2 separate regions of the Homo sapiens genome follow, and region 1 is linked to region 2. The links come from fine-mapping of genetic effects on gene expression. A gene starts in region 2. The other region holds a variant in brackets. All regions are shown on one strand. Distances are from middle to middle. Region 1 overlaps KXD1 (KxDL motif containing 1). Region 2 holds the start of REX1BD (required for excision 1-B domain containing).

The links. PIP is the estimated chance that this variant, and not a neighbour inherited with it, causes the effect.
Region 1: its variant is fine-mapped to the expression of REX1BD in whole blood (INTERVAL, PIP 0.97).

What each region holds. Positions count from the first base shown.
Region 1 is chr19:18,564,885-18,567,783 of GRCh38, forward strand. KXD1 (KxDL motif containing 1) reads left to right here. Exons shown (of 5, transcript NM_024069.4): 3 at 1-137; 4 at 2,248-2,294. It also overlaps a transcript of UBA52 not described here. Among named protein-coding and RNA genes, the nearest start is that of UBA52, 5.5 kb to the right of the region's middle. The variant C/T (reference allele first, on the strand shown) is at 1,520.
Region 2 is chr19:18,587,100-18,589,998 of GRCh38, forward strand. REX1BD (required for excision 1-B domain containing) reads left to right here and starts at 1,699. Exons shown (of 5, transcript NM_001100418.2): 1 at 1,699-1,801; 2 at 1,896-1,978; 3 at 2,314-2,584. The coding sequence starts at 1,703. RefSeq lists a silencer at 1,527-2,046.

The sequences.
Region 1 (2,899 bases), 22 kb before region 2:
AAGACCAATGAGATGCTGCTCAACTTCAACAACCTGTCCAGTGCCCGCCTGCAGCAGATGAGCGAACGCTTCCTGCACCACACGAGGACCCTAGTAGAGATGAAACGGGACCTGGACAGCATCTTCCGCCGTATCAGGTGGGTGCTCAGTGCCACCCCAGCCCAGCTGACCTCTGCCTCCACCTCCCCATCTGAGCCTCAGTTTCCTTCACATACCAGGGTAAAGGGAGATTTCTGTTTGTTTTACAAGGCTTCACTGCGCACTTAAGTGTCTGGGACAATTCCAACCCTGGGATAAAATCTTGACGTAAGTTTATTTACTGATTGATTAATTGATCGAGACAGAGTTTTTTTTTTTTTTTTGGAGACGGAGTCTCGCTCTGTTGCCCAGGCTGGAGTGCAGTGGCGCGACCTCAGCTCACTGCAAGCTCCGCTTCCCGGGCTCACGCCATTCTCCTGCCTCAGTCTCCGGAGTAGCTGGGATTACAGGTGCCTACCACCACGCCTGGAGAATTTTTTGTATTTTTAGTGGAGATGGGGTTTCACCGTGTTAGTAGTCAGGATGGTCTCGATCTCCTGACCTCGTGATCCAGCCGCCTTGGCCTCCCAAAGTGCTGGGATTACAGGCGTGAGCCACTGCGCCCGGCCGAGACAGAGTCTTGATCTGTGGCCCTGGCTGGAGTGCAGTGGCGTGATCTTGGCTCACTGCAACCTCTGCCTCCTGGATTCAAGCGATTCTTGTGCTTCAGCCTTCTGAGTAGCTGGGTCTACAGACATACTGTACCACACCCAGCTAATTTTTGTTGTTGTTGTTTTATTTTTGAGGTGGAGTCTTGCTCTGTCGCCCAGGCTGGAGTGCAGTGGTGCAATGTCAGCTCACTGCAACCTCCGCCTCCCAGGTTCAAGCGATTCTCCTGCTTCAGCCTCCTGAGTAGCTGGGACTACAGGCGCATGCTGCCACGCCCAGCTGATTTTTTGTATTTTAGTAGAGACGAGATTTCACCGTGTTGCCCAGGCTAGTCTCAAACTCCTGAGCTCCAGCACTCTGCCTGCCTCGGCCTCCTAAAGTGTTGGGATTACAGGTGTGAGCCTAATTTTTGTATTTTGTGTAATTTTTGTATTTTTTTAGTAGAGACAGGGTTTCCCCATGTTGGCCAGGCTCATCTCGAAGTCCTGGCCTCAGATGATCCATCCACCTCGACCTCCCAAAGTGCTGGGATTATAGGCATGAGCCATCATGCCCAGCCTTGCAGTTTATTTATTCTTAAAAAATGTAACACAGTGCGGCTGGGCGAGGTGGCCCATGCCTGTAATCCCAGCACTTTGGGAGGCCGAGGCAGGCGGATCACGAGGTCAGGAGATCAAGACCATCCCGGCTAACATGGTGAAACCCCGTCTCTACTAAAAATACAAAAAATACTAAAAATACAAAAAATTAGCTGGGCGTGGTGGTGGGCGTCTGTATTGCCAGCTACTCGGGAGGCTGAGGCAGGAGAATGGCATGAACCCAGGAGGTGAGC[C/T]GAGATCGCGCCACTGCACTCAAGCCTGGGCGACAGAGCGAGACTCCGTCTCAAAAAAAAAAAAAAAGTAACATAGTGCTAGACACATAATGAAAAGGCAGGAATGGCTGGGCACAGTGGCTCATGCCTGTAATCCCAGCAGTTAGGGAGGCTGACGCAGGCAGATCACCTGAGGTCAGAAGTTTGAGACCAGCCTGGCCAACATGATGAAATCCCGTCTCTACTAAAAATACAAAAAAATCAGCTGAGCATGGTGGCACGTGCCTGTAATCCCAGCTACTTGGGAGGCTGAGGGAGGACAATCATGTGAATCCGGAAGGTGGAGGTTGCAGTGAGCCAGGATGGCACCACTGCACTCCACCCTGGGCGACAGAGTGAGATTCTGTCTCAAAAAAAAAAAAAAAATTTATCAGAGAAGAGGCCACATGTAAGAAGCAGCCTCGCAGGGGGAGCCCCCAGCCAGTGCCTAGGCTCAGAGCACCCAGAGTCTAACTAGTTGGGGGTTGGTGCCTACCTTGGGGCTGGAGGCCGGCTGGTGGGCGACTGTCAGGGCCGTGGCTGCTGGGCCGAGCACCTAGAGAGAGTGAAGATGTGAGGTGATGAACAGTGTGGGGGTTCTCACTCCCGTCTCCCCTTGCCCTCAGCTGGCAGCAGGGGCTTGTGGCCAGCACCAGGCCCAGCCTACCTGCTCAGCAGGTTAAGCCCTGTGTGCCTTCTCTCCCCTGCAGGACGCTGAAAGGGAAACTGGCCAGGCAGCACCCAGAGGCCTTCAGCCGTAAGTGTCACGCAGGGTTCCTGCTCCCGAGCACGTCAGCACTCTCCACCCAGGGCAGGCTTCTGGAAGGCCACCTTGGGGCCTGATACTGAGACCAGGCTGTAATGGGCAGTGGGTCTGGGGAAACCTGGGGTGGGGGCAGGGTCAGGGTGCTGGCCTGGTCCTGTCAGCAGCTGGCAGAGTGGGCACTAGGACGGGAGTCCGTGCCCCGTGGGGAGGCCGCACAGGAGAATGTGGATAAGCAGCATGACAATCCTTATCCCTGTGTGCATTATGAGCCATCTCAGAACAGAGCACGGGCTCATGTGACACCAGCCCCGACATCGTCTCGCCTTCCCTGAGCCCCAGCTTCGAGGATCTGTCCCATGTCCAGCTGTTACCCACAGTCACCCATGGGGTGGGGACTGTGAGTATCACCGTTTCATGGAGAGGGAAACAGAGGCCCAGAGGGGCAGGACTTGAGTTCGCATCTGTCTGGCTAGAGAGCTCGCGTGTTCTCTGGGGTACCATTCCATGTTGCCACCACCTTAAAGGGCTCTGCAGGCTGAGCCTGGGTTCACACCATCTGTTGAAAAGGCCGACAGCTCTCCATCCCAGGGCCTCCA
Region 2 (2,899 bases):
GCCCCTATTCAGCAGGAAGCAATTAGAGTGGTCATCCTCCCACACCCCAACAGCAGTTGGGCTCTCCTGTTGAGAGAGGGGACTGAGGGGTGGAGTTGGCAGGATTTACTGGGCAGGTTTGGGGACTTTCACAGAAGACCCCTGTGACTCAGTGTTTTGAGTTCTTAACCAATCGAGTGAAGGATTCAGAATTAACCACTCCAGGCCGGGCGCGGTGGCTCACGCCTGTAATCCCAGCACTTTGGGAGGCCGAGGCGGGCGGATCACGAGGTCAGGAGATTGAGACCATCCTGGCTAACCCGGTGAAACCCTGCCTCTACTAAAAATACAAAAAATTGGCCGGGTGTGGTGGCGGGCGCCTGTGGTCCCAGCTACTGGGGAGGCTGAGGCAGGAGAATGGCGTGAACCCGGGAGGCAGAGCTTGAAGTGAGCCGAGATCGTGCCATTGCACTGCAGCCTGGGCGACAGAGCGAGACTCTGTCTCACTAAAAAAAAAAAAAAAAAAAAACAAAAAAAAAAAACACTCCAGAGGAGGATTGAAAAAAGAACCACTCTCAATGGACAAAAAGAAAGGGGAGGGGTAACATAGGGATATGAGCCCTAGCCACCGGAGCCAGCAACGGCAACCCTTCCGGGTCCCCTTCCAGCATGTGGAAGCTTTCCTTTCGCTTTGTTCAATAAACTGCCCTGCTGCTCACTCTCCTGGTCCGTGGACTCTTTTTGATCTGTAACACACACCGCGAAGGTCCACAGCTTCATTCTTCAAAGTTAGCGAGACCACGAACCCATCGGCAAGAAAAACTCCCAACTCACTAACAGCCTAGTCCCTTCCCCCTTAAAGGCTGGTGTCTGTCACCCCATACCTGAGCTGGTCCCTCTTCACTAAGTCAGGCTACCAGCATCTTCCTGCTCCTCCGGCTGGGCCCCTGGAGGAGGAAGCTTTCCAAAGCTCTGTCTAGCCCATGTATCCCTCCAGCAGGAAGCTCCAAGGCCTCCTCTGTACTTTGAGGTCGTTCTGGCCCCTGCTATGCTCCAGGCTCAGGGCTATTACACAAGACACCCAATTCAACTCGGTGGGCTGTTGACACCGTCCCTGTCACTGAATCTTGTCTTCACCCCTGTGATTCTCTGAAGAGCCAGTGAATCTCTGTTAATGTTGGTGGAGTTCCAGCCACTGCACTTTTTTTGAGGCAGACTCACTGTGGCTCCGGCTGGAGTGCAGTGGCATGGTCATAGCTCATGGCAGCCCCCAACTCCCGGGCTCATGTAATCCTCCCACCTCAGCCTCCCGAGTAGCTGGGACTGGAGGCGGGAGCCACCATGTCGGGCTAATTGGTTTTTCTGTAGAGATCGGGCCTCCCTAGGTTGCCCAGGCTTACTTAACACTCTTGAACGTCAAAACCCACGCTCAGTACCCGCTTCAAGTGGAAGTCGGTGTTGAGATACAAGCATAGGAACGAACTCAAGGCTAACAGCTGTTCTGTATTCAGAGCCGCACAATCAAGGAAAAACACGATCGGAGGCGGGCCCTGGACGGGAACAAGAAGGGTGGGCTTGACTGGGCGGCCCGCGGTCTTGGTTCCCCTTTCTTCCTTCTGGCTGGCCGGCCGCAGGGTAGGGGGTCCGTGGACCTCCCGGCCTGTAGGGGGCGTCGGGCGCAGCGGAAGGGCCTGCTCCGGAGCCTGGCCAGGGCTGCGCAGTCATGATCACCGAGACCGCGGCGGAGCCTACGGTCCCTGCAGTGCCTGCTGCTGAGGAGGCCACCGAAGCTCGGGGACGCGAGGAGCCGGCGTGGCCCTGGGTGAGCCCAGGCCCAAGCGGGAACGGGCGCGGGGCGGGCGGCGCAGACCCAGGGGCGCGGGCTTCATGCCCCAGCCGTGCCCCCTGTCCCGCAGAAAGACGCCCCGATCCGGACGCTGGTGCAGCGCATCCACCAGCTGCAGGCTGAGCGCGCGCAGGGCTTCCGCCGACTGGAGGAGTGAGTGGGGGCGCGGAGGGGCTCAGGGTTCGGTCCCCCGCCCGCTCCGGGCGTGGGCGTGTTCTCGGCGGGCGTGCCTGGAGGAGGAGCTGGGTCCTTGTGTGGCTGCAGAGTCAGATGGGGCGGGGATTTCGGGGCACCGGGTCCTCACCTTCACGAAAAAGGCCCCACAGCACGTCCCCACTACCCGACGACTCACTCTTCGTGGCTTCTCTCTCCTCCCCAAGAGCAGGGGTGGGCCTGTCTCGCGTTCCCCTGCGGGAGTCAGGAAGCGTCCTTCCTACCTACCAGTCCTCCCCTCTGGTGTCTGGGGACACTTCCTGGGGGCCTTTCAGGTGGTTGGCGCCGGTGCAGGGCCTGAGAGCCTGGGGGCGCGGCCTCAGGGTCCCCACATGCCGCAGAGGCCACCGCCAGTACCTGCGCAGCGGCCCTGACTACGACTTCGCGCGCTACCGGAGCACAGTGCACGGGGTGACCCAGGCCTTCGCCGCCGCCTCGCGGGAGGTGCTGGCGGTGGAAGCAGAGCTGGGCGGGCCTCGCAGGCAGCCGCTGCTCGCCGGCCACGTGCGCAGCCTGCAGGAGCTGGAGCAGACGCGGCTGGGCACGGTGAGGCCACCACCCCTTCCCCGCCGTGTCTCTAGGACCCTGGCCGGCTCCTCTCATGACGCACCCCTGGTTGGGGGGTGGTCCCAGTATCCCATACACAGACCTCACCCCTTCCTGTCCCACCCCAATCCTCTATTAAGGCTTCACTTGGGGATTCTCGGACCTTGCCCTCTGCTGTTCATCCCCAATTTTTTTCCCAAGTTTTGTCCTTATTCCCAGAGCACTCCCGCTTTCTCCCAGCTCCGCCTAAATGCTATTCCAAGATGCCCAGATCCCGCCCCAACAATGCTCCACCCACTCTGGTTGTTCCGCGTC